Linked DNA regions of Homo sapiens. The protein of the gene in region 3 interacts with the protein of the main gene of each other region in a pairwise test. Each region holds a gene or a part of one and is shown on either strand. Other genes may lie near its edges.

What was found.
Region 1: the proteins of PCYT1A (region 3) and SDCBP interact in binary tests that used the Homo sapiens proteins (3 or more experiments, as listed by UniProt).
Region 2: the proteins of PCYT1A (region 3) and FKBP7 interact in binary tests that used the Homo sapiens proteins (3 or more experiments, as listed by UniProt).
Region 4: the proteins of PCYT1A (region 3) and NMNAT1 interact in binary tests that used the Homo sapiens proteins (3 or more experiments, as listed by UniProt).

Annotation. Positions count from the first base shown.
Region 1 is NC_000008.11:58,570,261-58,577,288, forward strand, and holds part of SDCBP (syntenin-1), read left to right. Parts: intron 1-626; coding exon 627-705; intron 706-1,944; coding exon 1,945-2,054; intron 2,055-5,639; coding exon 5,640-5,801; intron 5,802-7,028. UniProt on the Homo sapiens protein: Multifunctional adapter protein involved in diverse array of functions including trafficking of transmembrane proteins, neuro and immunomodulation, exosome biogenesis, and tumorigenesis.
Region 2 is NC_000002.12:178,468,581-178,475,608, forward strand, and holds part of FKBP7 (peptidyl-prolyl cis-trans isomerase FKBP7 isoform a precursor), read right to left. Parts: intron 5,388-7,028; exon of another isoform or gene 5,275-5,387; intron 4,563-5,274; exon of another isoform or gene 4,449-4,562; intron 2,945-4,448; exon of another isoform or gene 2,857-2,944; intron 1,206-2,856; coding exon 1,072-1,205; intron 1-1,071. UniProt on the Homo sapiens protein: PPIases accelerate the folding of proteins during protein synthesis.
Region 3 is NC_000003.12:196,277,700-196,284,727, reverse strand, and holds part of PCYT1A (choline-phosphate cytidylyltransferase A), read left to right. Parts: intron 1-1,189; exon of another isoform or gene 1,190-1,253; intron 1,254-7,028. UniProt on the Homo sapiens protein: Catalyzes the key rate-limiting step in the CDP-choline pathway for phosphatidylcholine biosynthesis.
Region 4 is NC_000001.11:9,946,469-9,953,496, forward strand, and holds part of NMNAT1 (nicotinamide/nicotinic acid mononucleotide adenylyltransferase 1), read left to right. Parts: exon of another isoform or gene 1-1,039; intron 1,040-4,103; exon of another isoform or gene 4,104-4,180; intron 4,181-4,762; exon of another isoform or gene 4,763-4,829; intron 4,830-5,870; exon of another isoform or gene 5,871-6,001; intron 6,002-7,028.

The DNA.
Region 1 (7,028 bases), on a different chromosome or scaffold from region 3:
TGTCAGAGTGATTTTGGCAAGTTTGTTTAACAGTTACAAATTACATTACCTTGTCATCATCGATTTATGTCAGTGATAAACTGTGCTATTTTCATAATTTCTGATATTTTAAAAGTATTTAGCATAAACCCCTTCCTATACTTGCTGCAATGAAGATAAAGATGATTTCAGTGGGACATGCTTAGTATTAATTTTTTAGGTGTTTTTCTGATATGTGACTTTTATATGAATATGGGTAAGGTTTTTTCTTATGCAAATAAAATATTTTTACTTGGACTAATTAGTAAAAGAATAATGAAAATGTAAAATTTATTCATTTTAGAATGCACTTTGAAAATATTAATTTATTGTGGCAGCACTATGAAGTGCTGGTTATAAGACATGTAGAATGGTACTTCTACAATTTTTTTGTGATAGCCTTAAAAGTATTTAGAATATCAAATATAGTTTTGATTTGCAGATTTCCTTTGGAAAATGTATTGCTGATGTGTTTGAAATTAAACTTTCTTACATAAATCTTCATTGTTTTAGTTTCTTTTTGGAAGTACTGGATTTAGCTTATAAATTATATAAGAATATAAAGTAAGTATAGCATATTGTTAGAATTTTCTTCTTTTCTTTTTCAGGCTCAAACTGCTTTTTCTGCAAACCCTGCCAATCCAGCAATTTTGTCAGAAGCTTCTGCTCCTATCCCTCACGATGGAAGTAGGTTTATACTTTGAGTTCATTCTCTGTGAACAGAAATATTGTTATCTTCTTTTGCTCATATAAGGAATCCAAGATTTTTTTTTGGACAGGCTGCATAAAATTGGTAGTTAAGCTCAAATAGTTATGAATAAGAAAAAAAAGTTTACTTCAAAAAATAACCCTTTTTCTAATTAAGATAGTGAACTGTGGATATGGGGATGTATTTCATGGCTTAATGAAAATTAATTTTAGACTGACTTGTAAATCCCTAACGTGGCTGATTCATTTATGAATGAATTATATATATGAATTCACATATGAGAACTATATGAATTCACATTTAAGAACTATCATGCTGCTGCTGTTGAACTTTCTGAATTGTCTTCTGTCTTTCCTATGGGAGCTTCTGAAATTTCCAACCACCTCCTCTTTGGGAAGCCTCCTAAATCTTAAGGCCTTTATTCATTCTCTGTATCCTGTCTTTGGTCCCTTTTTCTTCAAGGTTCAGAGGGATTCAGGACAGAGCTCCTAAATACTATGACTTAAGATACAAAATAAGTGTTAAATAAGTTTTTGTGGCCTGTCATTTTGTCTTACAACAGTTTATAACATTGTGCCTCATAGAAAATTCATTTTAAGTCACAGATAATTTAAGTCTCATGTAAAAAAGAGCTTTTGGAAATAGTATATAACTACTAATAAGTGAAATAATGTTAATATTTAAAAATACCATTTCCAGGATTTCATTGGAATGTGGTTAAAATTATTAAAATGATAAGACACTAAATAAATTTACAAGCTTCCAAAAAAAATTGTTCATAAGAATCATTCCATATCCCTGTTTACAGAATGAGTTATAAAGTAGCTGACTTGACAAATAGATATTTTGGTCAGTTGTTCTGAATTGGAGAATCAGTGGCATTCTTACTAAATTCCTAATCAAGTAAGTTTATTTTAAGAAACAGGAAAGGCAAGATAGTTTATTTGGAAAAGTTATTTCTACTTTTGAGTGTTTAGGAATCTCTGGTTGTTTCAGTTCAGATGTCTTCATATTTTACGAATTTTAAACATTTTCTGTATTTTCCATTTCTCATTATTACAGAGATGGGGAGATGCCTTTCCAAATTGCTACTTTAAATTCATTCTAGATTTTATAACTTAAGTGTAATTTTGTTAATACGCAGAAGCCCATAATGAGAGAAGTTTTCATTTTGTGTATTCTGTAAGTGCTTTTTAATTTATTCATTTACTTTTTAGATCTCTATCCCAGACTGTATCCAGAGCTCTCTCAATACATGGGGCTGAGTTTAAATGAAGAAGAAATACGTGCAAATGTGGCCGTGGTTTCTGGTGCACCACTTCAGGGGGTATGTATAGTGTAATTAATTTTGATTTATATAAAATCATACTTTACATGTTAGTATAAGCTTTCCTCTTTGTGGCTAACTCACAGATATACTACTAGCATTGAACCTCACTTCTCAGAAATTTTAGACTTCCTTTTGGATATCATTTCTTATATAGTCTACTTCATTTTGTGCTACACTGTTTTGAGTTTATTAGGACTTAGATTCAGATACCTTTTACTAGTTCGTTCTCCTTTGTCTTCTGCATTTAGTCAGTTACTAAGTCCTATTGATTCTGTTTCTGTTTCTTGTATTCATTTTATCTGTTTTTTATCCATTCTAGTCCTACTATAACCATATTCAGGGTTTCTATACTTCTAGCCTTCATTATTATAGTACTCTCTTAAATTTCCTCTAGTAACTTATTTCAGACAGTACTAAGCCGCTGCTAAGTTAATCATTCTGAAATACACATATAGGTCTATCATATCTTTGTTGCTCATAATCTTTTTTTTTTTTTTTTTTTTTTTTGAGGCATAGTCTCACTTTGTCACCCAGGCTGGAGTGCAATGGCGTGATCTCGGCCCACTGCAACCTCCGCCTCTTGGGTTCAAGCAATTCTCCTGCCTCAGCCTCCCAAGTAGCTGAGACTACAAGCGCGCGCCACCATGCCTGGCTAATTTTTTGTATTTTTAGTAGAGACCGGGTTTCACCATGTTGGCCACGCTGGTCTCGAACACCTGACCTCAGGTGATCCACCTGCCTCGACCTCCCAGAGTGCTGGGATTACAGGCATGAGCCACTGTGCCTGGCCTTTGCTCTTAATCTTTTAACATTCTTTTTGAAATTCAAAGCTCCATGTAATTAGACTCCAGAGTCTAGCTTAATTATAATGGGTCTGATAACCTTTTATTAAGGTTATTGCTATGACCATAGCACTTTGTACCACTTATTATAATTGTAGTTAAATCTGTGTCTGTCTTGTTGCCATATCCCAATGCATATACAGTACCTGGCATTTATGTATTTACCAAATATTTATTGAAAACTTGCTTGTGTTAGTGGTGATGCAGTTGGGAAAACAAATAATAGTAGGTATTTTAAGAGGTTGAAAAATTGAAAAAAACATAAATGGACATAGATGTAATTGCAGATAGCTAGCTGCTTCTCCTAGGACTGGGATAACACAGGAGAGAGATTGGAGTTAGCAGAACCTAGAAGCTTGAGGAAGAGCCCCACGGAGCTGGGACTCAGACCTTGGATGAGGGGACACTACTAGTGCCTCTGAGGGGTTGTAATGAGGCTGGTTCTGGGAGTGTCAGTAAAAGTTGCAGACTGGAACCAACTGCTGCTGCCAGTGTAAAGGGCCAGGCTTACACAGTACTGACAGGAGCAGGAGGCACACAGGAAGGAATGAGGTGCTTGTCATTCCAGTCACTGACAAACGAAATTATAATTTGCACAGTTAGGCCCAGCATCACCAAGTAGAGTCTAGAAGGGTGGATTTGGAGCTGACAAACAGTAGTTTAATATCTGTTACCACCTACTCCTTTGACTACTCAGTATATCCACACACTTGTACAAACATTTGAATTTCATGTGACAACAACAACAACTTTATAGTTTCTCCTTGAAAGATGAATTTCTTCATAAAATCAAAGTTCAAACTTTATAAAGGGCTCCATAATAAATACCTTAGGCTTTCATGGTCACTTATGATCTTTATCACATATTCTTATTGTTATTTGTTTATTTACAATCTTTAAAAATATAAAAATCATTTTTAACTCAGGGGTGTACAAAATGAAGCCATGTACCCTTCAATATAAATGAAGTTGCTCTCACCCTTTCTCTAGAAAGGGATGATACCAGTTAATGTGGCCATCTCTGGGCAGTCATCATGGTATTGATTACTATATGATACTAATTACCCTTCTAAGTATTCACATTCCCAACAGAATATTTTTAATTTAAAGGCAAAAGTGTAAAGTTAACCACTACCAACAATTCATACATAAAGGTAAAAAGAGGTATAGAGGAACAGAAAGATTAATTGCTGTATTTACAGAAAATATACAAATACAAAGAAGAACAGAGTCATAGCTGCTCTGATTCTTATTTTAGTAACTGATCATGAGGCTGTAGTTAAAATTTAGAACTTCCTTTGTTCACTACATGGATGCTTAGATCCCTTTGCCCAAATACCTAGAAGGGTGATATAACCTTCATTTTTGTGTCTGCATCTCCAGGGTTCTTCAGTGCGCCGCCTTTTATTTTTCTTCTGTTCTATTTTAAATTAATTTGTTGCTGGAGATTTCTGTTATCTCTTCATATCTAGTGAATTTTTCATTTCACATATTTTATTCTTCTTCTCTTGATGTTCCATCTGGATCTTCCTCTCCCCAGCTTTATTGAGGTATAATTAACAAATATAAATTGTATATATTCAACTGTATATATCAATACAACTTGATGTATTGATAAACACACACAAACACACATTGTGAAATGATTACCACAGTCAGGGTTATTAACGTATCTGTCATCTCACATGGTTACATTTCTTTTGGTGTGTGGTGAGAACACTTAAGATGTACTCTTAGCAACTTTCAAGTATACCGTACAGTATTATTAATTATAGTTACTATGCTGTACATTAGATCTCCAGAACGTACTCATATGATAACTGAGAAAGTTTGTACACTTTGACCAACATTTTTCTCATTCTTTGCCCTGCCCAACCCCAGCCCCTGACAACCTTCCTTCTACTCTCTATTTCTGTGAGTTTGACTCTTTTCAGATTCCACATATAAGTGGGACCCAGACAGTACTTGTCTTTCTGTGTCTGGTTTATTTCACTTGGAATAATATTCTCTACATTTATTCATGTTGTCCAAATGGCAGGATTTCCTTTTTTTAGTGGCCTAATATTATTCCATTTTCTTTTTGGTTGGGGAAAGGTTCCACTTAAAATAAACCAGTTTTGATTAGGAAAACTGGAAAGAATTAGAAACTTGAAACATGGTATATGACACAGGTCCCTAATGTAGGTATTCTGGGGCATTCTGGTTTGTGCATATGATTTGTTAATCCATAGATGGTTACTAGAGGGGAAGAGACATAATAGTTGACTGTCTTATGTGTGCCAGTGCCCATACAACATGCACTTTTCATTTAATCCTGTCAGTAACAGTGAGGTAAGAAATTTGCCCCTTTTATGGAAATTCTGAAAGGATAAGTAGATTGTCAAAGATCGTGACATCATGAACCGTCTGGAAAATGTTTCAAAAGTATATGGCCTTTAAGTTCAAAGATAATAAATTTGAGATGAAGACAAGCCAGTATACCGGTGAAACAAATGCCAGTGAATTCAAAGGGCAACAGAGAGTCATTGAATCTATTAGAGATGATATGTGTGGGAATAAGTTAGTGAAGAATTAGTAGTAGAGCCAGTGCCATTTTCATAGACATCAAACTTTATCGGAAGGAAATTATTTGTGGATTGCTTTTTGGAAAGCCAAAACTGAGTAAGTTCCAGTTAATTATCATTGTTTTTTTCAAGGAGAGTGTTTCTAGATATTGACACATTGTATATGGTTTTGTCAGCAGTTGGTAGCAAGACCTTCCAGTATAAACTATATGGTGGCTCCTGTAACTGGTAATGATGTTGGAATTCGTAGAGCAGAAATTAAGCAAGGGATTCGTGAAGTCATTTTGTGTAAGGATCAAGATGGAAAAATTGGACTCAGGCTTAAATCAATAGATAATGTAAGTATTTTAAATACCTATTTGAATTTGTCTAAATCTCTTACATAATAAGTGATTAATGTTAAAATAATTTGAAATGGAAATGCTTTAATTATAATAGTGCATCTGTAGTTGAGAATATTTTAAATCTACTAACTTAAATGTTTTCAATTGGGGATGTTCTATTTTGCAGAGGCATAGTTGGGACTTCTGACCACATTACTTTGAAAGATGTTTCTTTTCTGAATATTCTAACTGGAATACATTTCACTGGCCTACATATATTATAGTTTGTATAATAGAATTGTGGCAATTAAATAGAGCAGATGTGAAGGTTAAGAAAAAACTTTCCAATGAGAGTCAATGTCAGTGTGCCTTTTTTTTTTTTTTTTTGAGACGGAGTCTCGTTCTGTCGCCAGGCTGCAGTGCAGTGGTGTGATCTTGACTCACTGCAACCTCTGCCTCCCGGATGTGTGTGCATTTTTAAACCAAATGATCAGTATTTAACTGGTGAGATGGTTTTTGCAGATTTGTTATTAACATCCTTCACATTTGAATTTAATATGTCATTTTCTGAGTAAAAAAAGATGGAATATTCTTTCTAATTAGGGCAGCCTTTACTTTATAATTACCTCTCACCTTAACATACTGAAGATATGAAACAGGGTTACTCTCTGAGGAACCATTTATAATTGTGAAGGACATGTTGAGTCTTTACCCCAATTTATAGTTTTAGCCATTACCTTATTGGATTCGGTTTCAGTCATACATCTCTAGCTTAGTGCATCCAGCCTTTCCACATAGAAAATTATAAGTGTGGTGCACTGCTGTAAATGGAGGAGGCTGATCTTGGCAGGAGGCCCCCGCCCTGCCTGCCCACCCAGGGGGCTGAGGCCATCGATGATGGCCTTGCTCACTTGTATGTCACTCAAAATACATCTGCGTGCTTAGTTGGGATGCTCTGACTTTGCTGCCCTTTCTCCAGAATCTTCAGGGAATAGAGTATACTGCTGCTCCTTCCGCCAGGATTGCTCTTGTGTTCTTTCCTCTGTCCTAAAGAGAAAAGATACTTTTCATAGGCCCCTTGGCCCCACTGTAGGTAATAGTTGCAGTGGATTTGTTCACTTGGCCAAAGGGCATTTGTTCATTTATGGGGTGCTACCTAGTTCTTGCTTATCATTCTACAATGTAACAGATGTGTGATAGAAATATGTGACCTAGCTTAGGATTGTAGAAGTAGATGCACTT
Region 2 (7,028 bases), on a different chromosome or scaffold from region 3:
CACTGCACCCTGGCATGGGCAACAGAGAAAGACCCTGTCTCTAAGAAAAATTTAAAAAATTGAAATGTAAGAACAGTCATGAAGCCAGATTGCCCAGGTTTTGCCCCTTACTACTGTGTGATTTTTGGCTGATTAACCTGATTATTATTTTCCCCATCTAAAAGCGAAGATGATGACAATAGTGTCTGCCCCATAAACTATCATGAAGATTACATAAGTTCACATACTTATGTGCTTATAAATAGTACCTGGTACTAAAAGTATAAAATAAATGTTATCTATTATTATCTTTTTTTTTTTTTTGGAGGCAAGGTCTCAGTCTATCTTCCAGGCTGGAGTGCAGTGGCATGATCACAGCTCACTGCAGCCCCAACCTCCTGGGCTCAAGCGATCCTCCTACCTCTCAGCCTCCTGAGTAGCTGGGACCACAGGTATGCACCACCATGCCTGGCTAATTTATTAAATCTTTTGTAGAGACGGGGGTCTCCCTGTGTTGCCCAGGCTGGTCTTGAACTCCTGGGCTCAAGCAATCCTCCCACCTCGGCCTCTCAAAGTGTTGAGATTATAGGCATGAGCCACATGCCCAGCCCAATTATCATTATTATTACAAGATCTTTATTACAAGGCTGAGATACAGACGCTAGCTGGCTGAACTTCTGGCTCCTGTTTACCAACTTTCTAGCCCACTCAATTCAGACCCTTGCTAGCTCTTTTCATCATCCTATGAGGCGTGAATTATTTGCCCTGTTGCAAATTCTTACAGTGCTGTCTGAAAAAGAGATATGCTAGTGTAATCTAGAAACTGGAAGAGCACTGTAGAGACAAATAATTCGGGATTTTAATGACTCTCTTGCAGGGAGAAAGGCAATTGAACAGGATGACTCACAAGGTTTATACTGAAAAAGCTTAGAGCTTTTTCTAAGCGCTTAGATTATTTTTTAGTGACCAGCTCTATAAAAGCAGTGATCAGAGCCCATGCTAGCTAGACCTAAAAAGTAATAGTTGTAACACAGATGTATTTAAACTGTGATAAAAAAATTAGACTATACACATGAAATTGGTTTGAATTACCTCGGCTTTAGAGAGCTGCCTGTCATTGTCCATGTCTATTTGTTTAAATGTCTCAATGCTCCGTGGTCCTTTGGTCACAGCATAAAGTTCAATCTCAAAAATCAATGTAGCATCCGGTGGAATCTTGCCTTCTGCTAAGGGTATAAATTTTAACAGTTTAACTTATGTAAAGATATAGTTCAAATATCTATTCATGAACTGCCATAACCATATTATATTATTTCATGTTGATAAGAATTGCTATCTGAATACTCACAATTTTTAATTTTTTCTCATCTTTTATAACTTTTTTCGGCTTTTCAATAGTTTTCTTTTTTGTTTTTTTTTCTCTTTTTTTTATAAATACTTTTTTAGGAATATTTTTTCCATATGTTTCCAAACCAAGTCAATTCAAAGGACCTATGGGACCACTATTTCTTGATTAATTTAAGTAAAAATCATAAACTTTTTATTAATGCATGGATATGACCCTCTATATCTGTGGGTTCTGCATCTGTGGATTCAACCAGTCTCGGCTTGAAAATATTCATACAAAAAAAGGATAGTTGTGTCTGTAATAAACATGTACAGACTTTTGTCTTGTCATTATTCCCTAACCAATACAATATAACAATCTTTTACATAACATTTACATTGTATTAGATATTATAAGTAATCTAGAGATAATTTAAAGTACACCGGAAGATGTCCAGAGGTTATGTGCAAATGTGATGCCATTTTGTATCAGGGGCTTGAGCTTCTGTGGATTTTGGAATCCATGAGAAGGTCTTGGAACCAATCTCTAACAGGTACTGAGAGACAACTGTACTCTCCTATCATCAACACAGAAGAGAGGTGGCACAGAGAAGAAATGCATGGGCAGAAAAATTGCAAAGCATAGATGAGTCATCTTTTAGAAAGTGATTTTGTGTAGTTATTTGGAAGCATAAATAAAACATAAGTATTAATATATTTGTCTTTCAAATTTTTTATAGACATTAAAAAATAAGTGCAATGATAGAAAAATCCAGTAACAGGCTGGGCACAGTGGCTCACACGTGTAATTCTAGCACTCTGGGAGACCGAGACAGGAGGATCACTTGAGCCCAGGAGTTTGAGACCAAACTGGGCAACATAGTGAGACCCTGTCTCTATTAAAAAAAAAAAGAATTAAAATAAAAATTCAGTAACAATTTTACAAAGAAATTGTATACATTTTTAAGCAATAAGTTGAATACCTATTTTTATTTTTATTTATTTTTTTTGAGACGGCGTCTCACTCTGTTTCCCAGGCTGGAGTGCAGTGGTGCAATCTCCGCTTACTGCAGCCTCTGCCTCTTGGGTTCAAGCCATTCTCCTACCTCAGCCTCCTGAGTACCTGGGATTACAGGTGCACACCAGGCATTGCATTATTAGTAGAGATGGGGTTTCACTATGTTGGCCAGGCTAGTCTTGAACTCCTGACCTCAGGTGATCCGCTTGCCTTGGCCTCCCTAAGTGCTAGGATTACAGATGTGAGCCACTGTGCCTGGCCAGAATTGCTCTCTTTAATTAAGTTAACCTATTAGCTGATGTCACAGATTTTTTTTTTTTTTTTAGACAAGAATCTTCCTCTGTCACCCAGGCTGGAGTGCAATGGCACGATCTCGGCTCACTGTAACCTCTGCCTCCCAGGTTCAAGCAATTCTCCTGCCTCAGCCTCCCGAGCAGCTGGGATTACAGGTGCCTGCCACCAATCCTGGCTAATTTTTTATACTTTATTAATAGAGATGGGGTTTCACCATGTTGGCCAGGCTGGTCTCAAACTCCTGACCTCAAAGGATCCACCCACCTTGGCCTCCCAAAGTGCTGGGATTACAGGCGTGAGTCACCGTGCCAGGCCATGATGTCACAGGTGATTTTAATAAGTGATGGGCTATTTCAGATAAATATGTCATAAAAGTGACTTGCAAAAATGACTTGCTAAGGGGCAGCGGGTAGCTTGTGTCATCAGTATATTGCCAGTGTCCTACACAGTGCCTAATCTACTACAGGCAGTCCAATATTTGCCGAATGAATGACCCATATCATTTATTTTTAAAATGTTTGTCCTTGGAAGGAAACAGCAATTTCTTTAATAAAAAAGTGAAGCATTCTAGCTAAAGTCTTTATATAGTCTGAAGAGAAAAGAGTTTGTGAGTTATAGCCAAAAGGAGTAGCAGATTAGTAGTTTTCAAAGAGAAAACATAGAAAGATCTACCCATGCATCATATGACTAACATAAAAGTCCTAACCTAATGCACCACATATTACCTGACTTTAGAGTAGAAGAGCTAGAGATTGAGTCAATGATTGTTTTATAAAACCCATTCCTATTTTTTCCAGTTATCTCCTTATGACAGAATTATTGTCTCCTGACAATAATTCAAGGCAAACTCAAAACACAAATTCAAATTTCTTTTCTTTTCGTTTTTTTTTTTTTTTGAGACAGAATCTGTTCTGTTGCCCAGGCTGTAGTGCAGTGTCGCGATCTTGGCTCACTGCAACCTCCACCTCCCGAGTTCAAGTGATTCTTGTGTTTCAGCCTCCCAAGTAGCTGGGATTACAGGCACAAGCCACCACACCCAGCTATTTTTTGTATTTTTAGTAGATACGGGGTTTCACTATGTTGGCCAGGCTGGTCTTGAACTCCTAGCCTCAGGTGAGCCACCCACCTCGGCCTCCCAAAGTGCTAGGATTACAGCTATACGCCACTGTGCCCAGCCCAAAACTTGAATTTCTTAAGAAAAAATATTGTAGGTACATATGCAGTTTTTGAACAATTTTGCTATAAACATAGAAAATATTGGCCGGGCGCAGTGGCTTATACCACTTTTTTTTTTTAGACAAGAATCTTCCTCTGTCACCCAGGCTAGAGTGCAATGGCGCGATCTCGGCTCACTGTAACCTCTGCCTCCCAGGTTCAAGCAATTCTTATTTGGCTTATACCACTGCGCCTGGCCAGGAGGGCGAGATCAGCCTGGCTGGCCAGGAGTTCGAGACCAGCCTGGCCAACATGGCGAAACCCCATCTCTACTAAAAATACAAAAATTAGCCAGGCATGGTGGCGTGTGCCTGTAATCCCAGCTCCTCGGAGGCTGAGGCAGGAGAATAGCTTGAACCCGGGAGGCAGAGGCTGCAGTGAGCCAAGATCAATCACACCACTGCGCTCCAATCTGGGTGACAGAGCAAGACTCCATCTCAAAAAAAAAAAAAAAAAAAAGGATATATTGCCAATTACCTCTTTTTCTTGTTTTTTTTTTTTTTTTAAAAAAAACTAAAGTATAAAAATGAGGAAAATATGCATTTGCTACGGAATTACTTATATTTAGAGAAGCAGATCAAAGAAGTAGGAATTAAGGTAAAGAATATATACATACCGCATGTATTGTTATTTAAGCACTAACAAGTCACATGCATTTCAAGACATGCAGGGTTGTTCTGTGACATGAGACAAGGATATTTTGCAGAAGAAAGACTTCTTCAAGTACTACCTAAAATAAAGTTATAGCTAATGTTAGGTCTTAATAACAACTTACTTTTAAATGCTTATTTAATCAAGAGGTTGTTTGTTAAACAGTTACTTAAGGTCTACACTGCAACTTTTAAAATAATGTAATCCAAGGTATTGGATTACAATGCCTAATGTAACGCAGGCAAGGTCAGTATTAACTATGGTCCAATTAACACTTTTTTTGGGCCTCAGTTTCTTACTCTGTAAAATGAGGGTGCTGGTGGTATTACTAGTGAGATTAATCACTTTAATGTTTGTTAGAGATACCTCCAATTGAATATGAACTTGTTTCACATCAAACTTCTATATCTCTGCAGCAAGTTTCTGATTTATTAAGAGCTTAGGCAGCCTGGGTAGTCATTCATATCTAAGCATAAATTAGTTTATGAAAAAGATAAGCTAAGTGGTCCTTTGCCTGATGGCGGTGAACCCTGGATGAGCACCTGATGATGACAGATGTGTGTGCTCTAGGCAGATAGGAGAGTGGGTGCTCTAGTGGTAGGCAGAATGTGGAGGCATCTGAAGACACAACGCAAGACAGAAAGGAAAACTTTGAAAATGAGAAAGAGACTGAAAGGCAAACTCTGCCTCCAACATTTTGCCTAGAAGTGGCCTCAACTTTTGACAACATTTTTAGCACAAGTATTGCATTTGACTTAATTTATTTTCAATTTTCCTTCTCTTTCTCCTAGGTTCCTATACAAATAAAAACAGGATATATGAATTATGGTACCATGGGAGCTGTTCTGATGGGATCAAATTATTGGCAAAAAGCATTAAAAATAAAGCTGAAGTTATCTGGAAATTGTCTCTTTAGGAGTTTTAAGCCTGACTGGGTCTGACTCAAAGCACTGACACCCCCCCACCACCCGCCAATCCAGTGTGGGGCACTGATGCCCCGATTTTGCTGGAAAGAACTCTTAATGACTAAGACAACTGCCTCAAAGAAGGCATGCCACTTCCATGAAATATTTGGGAGCAATGCCAATATCTCATTGTGGAAAATTAATCTTTACTATTTCAAACCGGTGGAGTCAGCAGTGGCTCTAAATAGGGTAAGGAGGCAAAGATTCTTTCTGTATAGCCTTCAAGCAGCAACACGGAGCAAGAACCTAACTAAGGATGCAAGGTACAGCCTATCAGGCTGCCCATCCTCCTGCCTGCTTTAAAAATTTTCTTCTCTGTTCTGCTACATGCAATTTTTGTAATTTAAAATTTTAATTTTGGAAAAATTAATACATGCCTTATAAAACTTTCAAATGGTACAAAATGTTAGAGTGAAAAGAAATCTTCTCATCCTTGACCCTGAGGCCTCCTTCCCAGGAACACTTAATGTCATCAGATGACTGCATATTCTTCCAGATGTATTCTGTGTAGATACATGCATATGTGAAACTCCTCCTCTGAAATGAAAGCTCATAGAGGATTGGGAGTAGTGTCTACTTTGGTCACTGCTTTATGCCCAGTGCCTAGAACAAAGCCTGGCACTGATGCTCAATATATATCCCAAAAGTGGAATATAGTCTTGTCCACTTTTTTTTTTGAGCCAGGGTCTTGCTGTGTTGCCCAGATTGGAGTGCAGTGGCACAATCACAGCTCACCGCAGCCTCGACCTCCCAGGCTCCAGGGATCCTCCCATCTCAGCCCCCTGAGTAGTTGGGACCACAGGCGGATACCGCCACGCCTGGCTAACTTTTTAATTTTCTGTAGAGATTGTGTCTCCCTACATTGCCCAGGCTGCTTTCAGACTCCTGGGCTCAAGTGATCCTCCCACCTTAGCCTCTCAAAGTGCTGGGATTATAGGCATGAAGCCACCATGCCTGGCCTCCACTTTATTTTTAACATATTAATAAGTATAGCTCTACTTCATTCTTTTTACTGGTTACACAGTAATTCATTGTATAGATATACTATAATTTATTTAACTAATTTCCTATTGATGGATAGGCAGGTGGTTTCCAACCTTTTGCCACCCTCCCACCCAAAAATGCCTGCAGTGAATGTTCTTTTACATATACCTTTGTGCACATTCCTGGAAATGGAACTATTGGATAAGAAGGCACGTGCATTTTCACTTTTTTTTTTGAGATGGAGTCTCGCTCTGTTGCCCAGGCTGGAGTGCAGTGGCGCAATCTTGGCTCACTGCAACCTCTGCCTCCCAGGTTCGAGCGATTCTCCTGCCTCAGCCTCCCAAGTAGCTGGGATTACAGGCACACTCTACCACACCCAGCTAATTTTTGTATTTTTAGTGGAGACGGGGTTTCACCATATTGGCCAGACTGGTCTCGAACTCCTGACCTGAAGTGATCTGCCCACTTCAGCCTCCCAAAGTGCTGGAATTACAGGCATGAGCCACCACACCCGGGCCTGCATTTTCACTTTTGATAACAGTTGATAGAGAAGTTGAATGATTTCCATTCCCAGCAATAATGCTGGTTTTTCCATG
Region 3 (7,028 bases):
ATGATGGCCTGGTTGATAAAGAATGAGCTTCATTCCCCCTCAGTCTATGACTCTCCTCCCATAAGCAGTGGGGTTTTATTTTCCCTGGGGACCTGCTTTTTGGATATGTGATCCCTTAAGAAGAATGACCTCGTCAGATAGAGCCTGGACTTAGCAGTCCCTGGTGACTTTCTCCGATGTTAACATTTACTCGCCCTGTGACTATGTATGGAAAGCATTATTGCTTTCTCTTGTTGTAGATTTTCTAACCATGGCCAGAGGTAACTCTTCTTATGATTAAACAGCCCTTTAATAATCTGAAATATATGTGAACTTACCAAATTTTGTATGTAATTTCATAGAGTTTGTAAACCATCTGACTCCATTTATAATTCAGAGCTGTCTGGCCTTTAAGTTAGACAGTATTTCCCTAGGGAGCTGAATAACCTCTCCTAGAGATGTTATAAGTGCTGATGAGAATTAGTTTTTGAAATGCTCAAATAAAAAGCATAATTTTCCATTGTTATTAATGATGGATAATAGCAAAATATCTGCTAATAATAGTAGAGTTCTTACTTAAGCATCATGCTTTTCTAAGTATTTACATAACTGATCTGAAGCAGACCTTCTGATTTTTCTACTAATAGAAATTTCCCTTTCTGAATCAAGCAGAAATAGGTCTCCCTTACATCAAAGTTTGTGTTACCTTGAAATAGATTGGAAAGAATACATTTTTGTAAAAGTCATTTTTTTCTTGGATTTGTTTCCAGTTGGAGAAACCCTAAAGTCAGGGCACTTGCCAATTATCACAGGACTGTGAGAGTCCCTTTTTTGCTCAAGATTGTGGCTGGCTGCTTGTACATCTTTGACATTATCACACATCAAGCATATTAGAAAAAGGGGTGACTTGGGAGAGTGAGGGGATCAGCACTTTAGGCCTTGTCAACCCTCCTGCTTATCTGCTTGGCAGCTTCTGGCATCTCCTTTTCCCTAAGTCCTTGAACCTCTTTCCTAAGCGTAAACCTTTCTGTTTTTAGTCCTAAACCTCTCTTTTCACAGTATTCCTGTCAAATGAGTACTTAAACACATGTTTCATCTGTGATTTGTTTTGTTAATTGCTTTGTGGATTATTTGTGGCAGAATTTAAATCCTAATTCCTTTCTACAATTTAGCCAGTAAATTCAAGGAATGTACCTTTTTACGTTTGCAGCATGTGCCGAAGCGCCACCTCAGAAGATAAAAAGAAATGAGTCTCATATTTGGCATTCTTTTAGGTTTGTTACCTACCTTATTCATTAATGTAAATAATTGAATTACCTGTATTTTACCATTCGTAAACCAGGTTAATAGATATATATTAATAGCAGGCTTTCTGTGTGTGTCTTTTCCCTCCTTTCTTTCTATTTATTTATTTATTTATTTTTTGAGACCAAGTCTTGCCTTGTTGCCCAGGCTAGAATGCAGTGGTGCAATCTTAGCTCACTGCAAACTCTGCCTCCTGGGTTCAAGCGATCTCCTGCCTCAGCTGGGATTACAGGTGCCCGCCACCACGCCCAGCTAATTTTTGTATTTTAGTAGAGACGGGGTTTCATCATGTGGGCCAGGCTGGTCTTAAACTCCAGACCTCAAGTGATCCATCCGCCTCGGCCTCCCAAAGTGTTGGGATTACAGGCGTGAGCCACTGTGCCTTGCCCCTTGCTTTCTTTTGGGAATTCTCTTGTACCACAAGTTGAAAGTTATATTAGTTTGAGGCTTTCTATGTTTGGACTAGGATGACTGCCAGTGAGCCAGGGGAACCCATGAATCTGCTAGGCTGTTATATCACATTCACAACTACTTGCAAACCAGTTTTGAAGTGAAGGCTGCCAAAAATAATGACATATGGTCCCTGCTCTATAGAAAATGAGCATATGACCCTTAATAAAAAACAGGTAGTTTTTTTATATACAGAAAATTACCCTAAATGTGATTATGTTTCTTTATTTTTTGACCGTAGAACAGGAATCTTAATCTTTTTTGTGTTATGGACTCCTTTGGCAGTGTGGTGAAAGCTTTTAGAGTTCCTTTTTGGAATATGTTTTTATATGCAAAAATAAAATACATAGAACTATAAAGAAAACCAGTTATATTGAATTATATTGATATATAGTTATCAAAATTTAAGAAGTATGATATGGTATGAAAATATCCATGATTTCTACTGGTAACAAATCCATTTGTCTAATAAGTCTGCTATTACTGCTGTAGCTTATGTTCATCACTGAAGTGAAAATAAAGATACAGTCTTTTTCATCCAAATTCACAGACTTCCTGAATTCTATCATAGACCCTGCCTCAGAGATATGAGTTCCATAACCCACTCTAGGAAGATCACATTCTAAACACAAGAGTTTACTCACCAAATATTCTGGTAGAATAGTGGCAGAGTAAAATTGTTCAACTGTAAGAACTATTACATGTGTCCCTCATGGTTTTTTCTTTCCTGAAATATTCTACTACATGTCCAGGCCGAAGAAGTATAAGCTTTATTATGTGTGCCAGTGGCTAACCCAGGGTCTGGCACAGAGTAAGTGCCGCTCAGTGTTTGTTGAATAAGGGTTTCTCTGACGAAATTAGAGGGAAGAGATCCAGTTCAAAGCTAAGGTCTTAAATGTGACAGTTTATAGGGCTCATGACAAGTAACGTTGAACTTTAGTTTAGAACTAATCTGTCAGAGAAGCTCATGTTTTGAAATTCACTTTTACATTTATAAGTTCTCAGCCTGGTGTGATAGTTCATACCTATAATCCCAGCACTTTGGGAGGCTGAGGTGGGAGGATTGCTTGAGGCCAGGAGTTTGAGACCAACCTGGGCAGCAAAGTGAGACCCCCATCTCTACAAAAAATTAGCTGGGTGTAGTGGCATGTGCCTGTAGTCCTAGCTACTTGGGAGGGTGAGGCAGGAGGATCACTTAAGCCCAGCAGTTCGAGGCTGCAGTGAGCCATGATTGCACCACTGTACTCGAAATAATTCTATTTCTAACACTGTTTTTCACTTTAGATTGGGTAAATTTAGGTAGAATTTGCCACCAAATTATTAATAAAGCTGGTCCTGATTTCATCTAGGATGAGAGGTAGCAAACTTTTTCAGTAACGGGCCAGATTGTAAATAGTTTAGGGTTTGCAGGTCACACAGTATCTGTGACTACTCAGCTCTGCTGTTGTAGCACAAAAGCAGCCATGGACAATAAACACATCAGTGAGTGAACATGGCTGTGTTCTGATCGAATTTTAATTACAAAAACAGGTAGTGGGCCATCTTTGGCCAGCTAGCTGTAGTTTGCTGACCCCTGATCTAGATTTTCTGGTTCTTGAGTCCAGCTCTTTTCCCTACTTTCGCTTAGCCATATACTCCTTCAAGCTTCAAAGGCCTTTACATAGGGGGCAATGTCCTTACACTGTTATCTCCAGAAAGACCTGAGTGTACAGCAAGATGATAGGATTAATGAATGCCAGGAATATTAGATGCACTTTAACCCTTGAGTTTCCAGAGCTTGCCTCTTAGAGCACCAGCTCATTAAGCACCACCACGGTAGAAGCAGAGAAACATCCCAAATGTAAAGTCTGCTTGCGCACTCGGCTTTGGAACTGGGCATTGATATGCTGATAGAAAAATACTGGGCATTGGGTTTTAGTGGGGAAGATAATGTAGGCCTAGAGATGGGGAAGGCAGGAATAGAGTGCAAAGGAAAAATTATGCCTCATCTTTTTGCAAATAGTTCCTTGTAGTAATTGGTCAAGTTTGAGTTAGATTTTTGAAATGTGGAATAGCATATGTAATTGCAACTTGCTACTACAAGAGCTCACCCTTAGTCGCAGTTTTACTTTCCGTGGTTTCAGTTACCCACAGTCAGCCACGGTCAGAAAATAGGTGAGTATGATGTAGTAAGATATTTTGAGAGTGAGAGAGAACAGCCACATTCAGATAACATTTATTACAGTATATTGTTATAATTGTTTTATTATTAGTTATTCCTGTTAATCTCTTACTGTGCTTAATTTATAAATAAAACTTTATCATAGCTCTGTGTATATAGGGAGAAAACAAAGTAGAGTCAGCCCTTCGTGGCCATGGGCTCCACATCCGCAGATTCAGCCAAACTTGGATCGAAAATATTCAGAAAAAAAAAAAAAAAAAAACAATAAAAATACCAATACAACAATAAAAAACAGTACAAATAAAAAACCAATATTGTATAATAACTGGTTACATAGTATTTACATTGTATTAGGTGTTGTAAGTAATGTAGAGAAGATTGAAAGTATATAGGGGGTATAGATTATATGCAAATTCGACACCGTTTTATATATATAAGGGACTTTTGAGCATCTGTGGATTTTGGCATCTGCAGGAGATCCTGGAACCAGTGCCCTGCAGATTCTGAGGGACAACTGTCCATATAGGGTCCATACTCTCTAGGGGTTCAGGCATCTGCTGGCGTCTTGAAACATTTCCCCTGTGGATAAGAGAGGACTCTGCTATATTTAGATTGTTACATAGTTCAGGAAGCAAAGTCCAACTCCTCTTTCCCTTGGTAGGTCTGTTTGCAATAAGGAAGTTGAATAGAAAGGATTGGATAGGCCGGGTGCGGTGGCTCACGCCTGTAATCCCAGCACTTTGGGAGACTGAGGCGGGCAGATCACCTGAGGTCAGGAGTTCAAGACCAGCCTCAACATGGAGAAACCCCATCTCTACTAAAAATACAAAATTAGCCAGGCGTGGTGGTGCATGCCTGTAATCCCAGCTACTCGGGAGGCTGAGGCAGGAGAATTGCTTGAACCCGGGAGGTGGAGGTTGTGGTGAGCTGAGATCGTGCCATTGTACTCCAGCCTGGGCAACAGGAGTGAAACTCTGTCTCAAAAAAAAAAAAAAAAAAAAAAAAAGAAAGGACTGGATAGGAGTCCCTAAAACTACTTGTAGGAGCCTATCATCTTTCAGACTCAAGCATAGACATGCCAGCACCTAGATTCTGTCTCCTTCAGGACATTCACATTGGAAAAATATGACTAGCTGTATCCTTAGTGTCTCCTCAGTGCCACCCCTCCCTCCACAAACACATCTTCCACTTGTCTAGCAAAGCTGATGTGCCTCAGCAGGCATGTGTTGGAACGTGGAGGAACAAGGCAAGCAGTGTGTACTGGTAGGTGAGTCAGCAGAAACCAAACCAGGTCTTTGTGAGTCGGAGTAAAAATCACAGGCACAGATACTGCATTCTGTATTTCGAGGGCACTTTGGAGACACTAATGTACTTAGCAGGCAGGGTGTTGGGGGATGGGTTTTTATGTCCATATTTAGAGTCTGTGCTCAAATTTCAGTGATTAAGATAAGGTGACTTATCTAGGGAGTGAATAGGCAGCAGTTGGAAAGATCAGGTCTTAACAATTGCTGTATTCTGGCTGTCAGCCCTTTTTTTTTTTTTTTTTGATAGAGTTTCACTCTTGTCACCCAGGTTGGAGTGCAGTGGTATGATCATGGCTCACTGCAGCCTCCGTCTCTTGGGTTCAAATGATTCTCCTGCCTCAGTCTCCTGGGTAGCTGGGATTACAGGCACCTGCCACCACGCCCAGCTTATTTTTGTAGTTTTAGTAGAGACCGGGCTTCACCATGTTGGCCAGGCTGGTCTCGAACTCCTGACCTCAGGTGATCCTCCCGCCTTGGCCTCTCAAAGTGTTGGGATTACAAGTGTGAGCCACCACACCTGGCCTAGCTTTTTTTTTTTTTTTTTTTTTGAGATGAGGTCTTGCTCTGTCACCCAGGCGGGAGTACAGTGGAACGATCTTGGCTCACTGCAACCTCTGCATCCTGGGTTCAAGCGATTCTGCCACCACAGACTCCCAAGTAGCTGGGACTACAAGCATGTGCCACCACTCCTGGCTAATTATTTGTCTTTTTAGTAGAGATGGGGTTTCGCCATGTTGGCCAGGCTGGTCTTGAACTCCTGGGCTCAAGCAATCCATCCGCCTTGGTCTCCCAAAGTGCTGGGATTATAGGCATGAGCCACTGTACTGGGCTGTTATAGCCTTTTTGACAAAGAAAGTGTTCTGGAGGATGAACCACTAAACAAACAGGAAGTGTTGGCCCATCCTAGTAGGGCTCTTGAGGGAGGTTCTCTATTCTATCTCCAAATACTTTTCTTCCTGTCTCATTCCTAAGGGTCAGTCTGCAGGGCATTGAGTAATGCACTGCCCCATGTTCGCCTCCTACTGTATTGGCTCTGAGGAGGCGCGATCATTTCCCAGTCCCATTGCCCGCTGGACAAACAGGGATATTAAGGCAGCCTGTGTGTGTGCGTGTATTTTTTTTCCCCTTTGAATGTAGATATTTAAAGCCACCTCCTTTTCCAGAGCCATCACTGTACCTTACTTGAATGGTATTGGTTGATGACAGAGGCGCACTTATCATAAACTGAGAGTCCAAGAAATATTGTTCCTCATTGTTGGAGGTATTCCAAATGGTTACTGGGCAGTTATCGATGTTGTAATGGTGGTGTGGCTTTAGGTACACCTAAGTTTCAGTGTAACAAATTAAGAAGCCAACACGATGTTAGGATGTATTTACTGTCTTCAGTACGCCCTCATCCTCCCACACACCTTTTCTCTACACTTTCTCAGTAGCAAAGGTGATGTGTCCGGGCAAGCATCTATTGGAACATGAGGGAGACTGGGGGTACCTTTTTCCATGATTTTAAACATCAGTTATTATTCTGTATGCTTTGGTGCTGCGGTTATAAGTTAGTAGATGTGAGAGAACATTGGGATGGCATAAGAAGGCCGGGAAAAAATGAAAAAAACTTGTGAGACCTACAGAGTAAAAGTTTATTATTGTTATTATTATTTTGAGACAAAGTCTCGCTCTGTCGCCCAGGCTGGAGCGCAGTGGCGTGCGATTTAGGCTCACTGCAACCTCCACCTCCAGGGATCAAGTGATCCTCCTGCCTTAGCCTCCCAAGTAGCTGGGATTACAGGTGCATGCCACCACGCTCAGCTAATTTTTGTATTTTTAGTAGAGAT
Region 4 (7,028 bases), on a different chromosome or scaffold from region 3:
GGAGCCCAGAGAACGCAAGTTGCTCCAACTAGGTAGGGAAAATGCTGGGACAGATGAAACTTGAGTGGCTAACAAGAAGTACCAGGAGCCAAAGGCTCTCTGAACACTTGGGCCTCTTTTAAATGTCTGCCTTAAATAGCTTGTACCATTGTAAGTCTTGCATAATGGGTGAGAACATGAACTTTTAGAATCAAAGATGTCACTCTAGGTGTGGTTGTATTTGGAGTAAGGAAATAATTAAGGTTAAATGAGGTCATAAGTGTGGGGCCCTGATCCGATAGGACTAGTGTCCTTATCAGAAGAGTGAATGGAGAGCTTGCCCCTTACCCTTACATACTGAAGAAAGATTATGTGAGGACTAGCAAGAAGGTGGCCATGTACAAGACAGGAACAGAGCTGCCACCAGAGACCAAATTGGCCAAAACCTTGATCTTGGGCTTCTAGTCTCCAGAATGGTGACAAAGTAAATTTCTGTTGTTTAAGTCACCCAGTCTGTGGTATTTTAGTATGACAGCCCAAGCAGACAAATACACCATCTATATGCAGATACATCCAAATCTCTAGTCTGTTGTATGTCTGTACCTCTCCCCTGAACTTGGCTTTGTTCTCCACTTGCCTACTTATTGTCACCACTTGGATATATAATAGATGTCTCAAACTTCACTTCTCTGTAAACTGAACTCCTGATAGTCCCCTCAAGCCTACTCCATAGACATCTTTCTCTTCTCTTTTTTTTGGAGACAGGGTCTTGCTGTGTCGCCCAGGCTGGAGTGCAATGGCGTGATCATGGTTCACTGCAGCCTTGAACTCCTAGACTTAGGTGATCCTCCCACCTCCGCCTCCCAAGTAGGATGTGAGGGCAACCTGGCTGTGACATCTCTCACCCCGTTGATCACCAGGGTTGATCCGGCTGATCTGGCTGGCTAGGCCGGTGTCTCCTTCCTCCCTCACTGCTCCATGTATATCCCTCCCGAAGCTGCACACTCAAGTCGAAGAGAACGACCATCCCCAATAGAGGAGGACTAATCTTCGGTCAAGGGTATATAAGTAGCTGCGTTCCCCTGCTAGAACCTCCAAACAAGCTCTCAAGGTCCCAGGTAGCTAGGATTACAGGCACACGCCATCATGCTTCACTATCATTCTCTTCTCAATTAAAGGTAATACTGTTCTTTTAGCTGCTTAGGCCAAAAACTTTTGGAGTCATGCTTGACTTTTCTTTCTTTCACAGCCCACATCCCATCCATTGCAAATCACATTGGCTGTATGTTCCAAATACACCCAGAATTGAGTGACATCTTATCACTTTGCTACCACCATCAGGGCCAGGTCAGCATCACCTGTCACCTGGATTATTGCAGTAGCCTCCCATCTTATGTCTTCACTTGTACCCTTGCCTCTCCCTACATTCTGTTTTCAGCTTCAACTGCTAGAGAGATCCTTAAAAATATGTCAGATCATGTCACTCCTCTGCTCAAAGCCCTGCAGTGGTTGATGAGGTCTAGAGAATGTGTTGTTTCTAAATAATTTCTGTTAATCATGGTAATATAATTACTTCAAAGGAATTTCATTCTTATTGTGTGATTGCTCGCATTTCTAATTCCTAACTTAGTGCTGTGTCTGGGATGTGGAAGGTGGTCCGAAAATGTTGGTGGCGTCAAGGGATAGTGGGTATATATTAGGTAACCTCTCCAGATGAGAACAGATGAACAGTCATTTCCATGTGTTCAGGTGCTGTGCCTGTCAGAGATACTTTGGGAGATTTTATACTGAATACGTTCTTCTTGCCCATTAGTACTGTTCTTTTTCTCAAGAAATGGAGTTGTCGGCCAGGTGAGGTGGCTCATGCTCGTAATCCCAACACTTTGGGAGGTTAAGGTGGGCGGATTGCTTGAGCCCAGGAGTTCGAGACCAGTCTGGGCAATATAGTGAAACCTTATCTCTACAAAAAAATACAAAAGAGTAGCCAGGTCTGGTGGGGCATACCTGTAGTCCCAGCTACTTGGGGTAAGGGCTGAGGTGGGAGGATGGCTTGAGTCCGGGAGGTGGAGGTTGCAGTGACTGTGCCATTGTATTCCAGCCTGGGTGATAGAGCGAGACCCTGTCTCAAAATGAAGTGGTATCCAGTCCTTAATGACATTGGGACCATTTGTGAGTAACTAGTCCCTAACAAAAATACTTCAGAATTTTTTTTTTTTTTTGAGACAGAGTTTTACTCTTGTTGCCTAGGCTGGAGTGCAATGGCCCCATCTCAGCTCACTGCAACCTCCGCCTCCTGGGTTCATGTGATTCTCCTGCCTCAGCCTCCTAAGTAGCTGGTACAGGCACCCGCCACCATGCCTGGCTAATTTTTTGTATTTTTAGTAGAGACGGGGTTTCACCATGTTGGCCAGGCTGGTCTCGAACTCCTGACCTCAGGTGATTCACCCACCTGGCCTCCCAAAATGCTGGGATTACAGGCGTCAGCCACTGTGTCTGGCCCGGAATTGTTAAATATACACTGAAGTAAAAAGACAAAACACGGCTGGCCATGGTGGCTCACGCCTGTAATCCCAGCACTTTGGGAGGCCGAGGCAGGTGGATCACCTGACGTCAGGTGTTCAAGAGCAGCCTGACCAACATAGTGAAACCCCATCTCTACTAAAAATACAAAAATTAGCCGGGCATGGTGGCAGGCACCTGTAATCCCAGCTACGTGGGAGGCTGAGGCAGAATCGCTTGAACCCTGGAGGCGGAGATTTCAGCGAGCCGAAATCACACCACTGCACTCCGGCCTGGGCAACAGACCAGGACTCTGTCTCAAAAAAAAAAAAGAGAAAGACAAAACACAATGCAGGTCACTTAGCTATTTTCTCTAGAAAACAATTAGCTGTCATGATGCAGAAGATTGTTATAATCTATAAGGGGGAGGTTGTGGTTATTTTTACTCTAAAATCTTCCACTGCTTTTTTTTTTTTTTTTTGAGATGGAGTTTCACTCTGTCACCCAGGCTGGAGTGCAGTGGTGCAATCTTTGCTCACTGCAACCTCCACCTCCTGGGTTCAAGCGATTCTCCTGCCTCAGCCTCCCGAGTAGCTAGGATTATAGGTACACACCAAGAGGCCCAGCTAATTTTTGTGTGTGTATATATATATATGTATGTGTATATATATAATTTTTTTGTTTTTTTTAGTGGAGACGGAGTTTCACCATGTTGGCAAGGCTAGTCTCAAACTCCTGACTTCAAGTGATTCGCCCACCTCGGCCTCTCAAAGTGCTGGGATTACAGGCATGAGCCACCGTGTCCGGCCCCACTACATTCTTAAAGAAGCAATAAATTGACCTTGTTTAAATACACAATCTGAATTACTGGGGTCTTTTGAAACTAAACCTTTGTTCATTACTAAGATTTCTATTTTCCTTCCTCTTTTTCAGCACTTATTTCTATAGCAGTCTCCCAGCTGATGCCACTTAACTTCATTGAACAAAAAATGAGGTTTAGAAAATCACAATAATCATTGTGAAAGTATTTGATAGGAGATCTTTATTTGGGGTGAATTGGGTTATGATGTCAGTCCTGTGATTTCAGCGGAACTGTTTCTTTTTATCCATTGTCAGTGAGTGCTCATTAATACTTAAATGCAGCTTTCTTTTTCTTTCTTTTGAGACAGAGTCTCGCTCTGTCACCCAGGCTGGAGGGCAGTGACGCAATCTCGGCTCACTACAACCTCTGCCTCCCGGGTTCAAGTGATTCTCCTGCCTCAGCCTCCCAAGTAGGTGGGATTACAGGCACCTGCAACCATGCCCGGCTAATTTTTGTATTTTTAGTAGTGACAGGGTTTTGACATGTTGGTCAGGCTGATCTCGAACTCCTGACCTCAAGTGATCCGCCCGCCTTGGCCTCCCAAAGTGTTGAGATTATAGGCATGAACCACCACGCCTGGCATAATGCAGTTTTCTACTAAATGACTGATTTTGACATGCTTCCTGTTATTGGCCCTGCTGTTCAGCTGAAATAGCAGGATAGGAGATGGTCGTGTGATGGCCGATAGGTGGCAGTGCTGCTGGGACAGGCCCAGCCTGGTAGAGACGAGTATCTCAGACAGGAAAAACAGGACCCAGATGGCTCAGACTGTTGGGTTAGCATCTGGCCTTCGACAGGTCACCCTGGCCCGCCAGATCAGCCCCAGGCCTGACAAAAGCACTACAGGATAAAGAATAGGATCTCATTAAATGCAGTGGAAGTAACGTGAGAAGGATGGCTTTTCATATGCCATCCTAACCCTCCCCTCCCCCCGTTTTCTTTGCTTTGCTTTTCATACTTCTTAGCTTCTTGGATCTCTTGCTTTAAGAGGAACTAGGGTGTGGGCACAGTGGTTCACAGCTATAATCCCAGCACTTTGGGAGGCTGAGACGGGTGGATCAGTTGAGGTCAGGAGTTCAAGACTAGCCTGGCCAACATGGCGAAACCCCATCTCTACTAAAAATACCAAAATTATCCAGGCATAGTGGCACACACCTTTAATTCCAGCTACTGGGGAGGCTGAGGCAGAAGAATTGCTTTAATCCAGGAGGAGGAGGTTGCAGTGAGCCAAGATCACGCCACTGCACTCCAGCTTAAGCAACAAAGTGAGACTCTGTTTCAAAAAAAAAAAAAAAAGAGGAACTAGAGCTTAATATTCTCCTTGCAACATCACAGTCACAGTGCTGGTTGAGTAGTTACTTGCCTCGAAGGACTGGTAAGCCTTTGACAAGGATTGGTTACTTGGGAAGTTTTCTTGCTTACCTGTAGAAGTTAAGCTGCTCACCGACAGGAGCACAGACAAGTAGTAAAGTTCAGGGGTTGTTGTTTCCTACATTTGAGAGAGAAAAGGTGCTATGAGGAATACTTTGTCTTTTAATCAGAATGTGTTAAAAATGTTTTGCCACAAGGATTTAAATGAAGGTGCCAATTTAGCAAGAAATAGAAGTCTTGCTGTATACTGTGCCAAACCCAATCCAACAGCTTCAGTTTTTTTTTGTTGTTGTTGTTGTTGTTTGTTTGTTTTGAGGCAAGATGTTGCTTTGTCATCCAGGCCAAAGTGCAGTGGTGTGAGCATGGCTCACTGGAGCCTTGACTTCCTGGGTTCACGGGATCCTCCTGCCTCAGCCTCCCAAGTAGCTGGGACTACAGGCACGTGCCACCAGGTCCAGCTAATTTTTGTAATTTTTGTAGAGATGGGGTTTCTCCACATTGCCTATGCTGGTCTTCATCTCCTGGGCTCAATCGATCTGCCTGCCTCAGCCTTCCAAAGTACTGGGATTAGAGGCGTGAGCCACTGTGCCCGGCCTGTTTCACTGTTGATTAATATCTTAACTACTTTTCGAAGCTCTAGTAAAGTAGAATTCACCTACAAAAACAAAAATCTCTTGTAGAATTTTTAAACTTTCCCCAGTGAAATGTTTTAACTGTGACATGTGCCTAATCAGGTATTCCATCTCCACATATCTCTTCTTTTGGTGTCAGTAGAAAATAAATATTGAAGACATATTATTTACAGCCAAACTTTCAGATTAAGATAAGCCTTTAGAAATTCTTTGTTTATGGCTCACGCCTGTAATCCCAGCACTTTGGGAGGCCGAGGTGGGTGGATCACGAGGTCGGGAGATCCAGACCATCCTGGCTAACACAGTGAAACCCCATCTCTACTAAAAAAAAATACAAAAAATTAGCCGGGCATGGTGGCGGGCACCTGTAGTCCTAGCTACTCGGGAGGCTGAGGCGGGAGAATGGCGTGAACCTGGGAGGCGGAGCTTGCAGTAAGCACAGATTGCGCCACTGCACTCCAGCTGGGGTGACAGAGTGAGACTCTGTCTCAAAGAAAAAAAAAGAAATTCATTGTTTAAAAACATACACAGTCTGTTGCCAAAACTGTTAACACCATAGTGCAGACTCCTTAACTGAAGGATCCCACACCAAATGCAGAAGACATCCACTTCAGTGCCCGTGGCAATGGCTCCATCTGAACAAACTGCACAGTAAAACCTAAAAAGACAGAGGAACAGCATCAGTTTTTAGGTTTAATCATCTCAGAAAGAAACATATTCTTTGTTTTTTTGTTTTTTTTTCTTAAGACAGAGTCTCACTCTGTCACCCAGGCTGGAGTGCAGTGGCACAATCTCAGCTCACGGTGACCTCTGCCTCCTGGGTTCAAGTGATTCTCCTGCCTCAGCCTCCCTAGTAGGTGGGATTATAGGTGTGCACCACCACTTCTGGGTAATTTTTTGTATTTTTAGTAGAGACAGGGTTTCACCATGTTGGCCAGGCTGGTCTCGAACTCCTGACCTCAGGTGATCTGCCCACCTTGGCCTCCCAAAGTGCTGGGATTATAGGCGTGAGCCACCACGCTCGGCTAGAAACATATTTGAGCCACCACGCTCGGCTAGAAACAGATTCTTGAATGCAAACCTAAATGCAATTTGTTTCCTTCCCTTCCTGCTGTGGAACAGAAATGTCCAGTCTGGGCAAACTAATTTTTCCTTTGATATAGATTGTATGCATGTTTTTTTTTTTTGAGACGGAGTCTTGCTCTGTCGCCCAGGTGGAAGTGCAGTGACGTGATCTTGACTCACTGCAACCTCTGCCTCCTAGGTTCAAGCAATTCTCCGGCCTCAGCCTCCCGAGTAGCTGGAACTACAGGTGCCCGCCACCACGCCTGGCTAATTTTTTTTGTATTTTTAGTAGAGACGGGGTTTCACTGCATTATCCAGGATGGTCTCGATCTCCTGTCCTTGTGATCCACCCACCTCAGCCTCCCAAAATGGGATTACAGGTGTGAGCCACTGTGCGCGGGCTTTTTTTTTTTTTTTTTGAGACGGAGTCTTGCTCTGTTGCCAGGCTGGAGTACAGTGGCGCCATCTCAGCTCACTGCATCCTCTGCCTCCCAGGCTCAAGTGATTCTCCTGCTCCAGCCTCCTGAGTAGCTGGGATTACAGGCCTGCACCACCACACCCAGCTAATTTTGTTTTTTTTTTTGAGACGGAGTCTCACTCTGTTGCCAGGCTAGAATGCA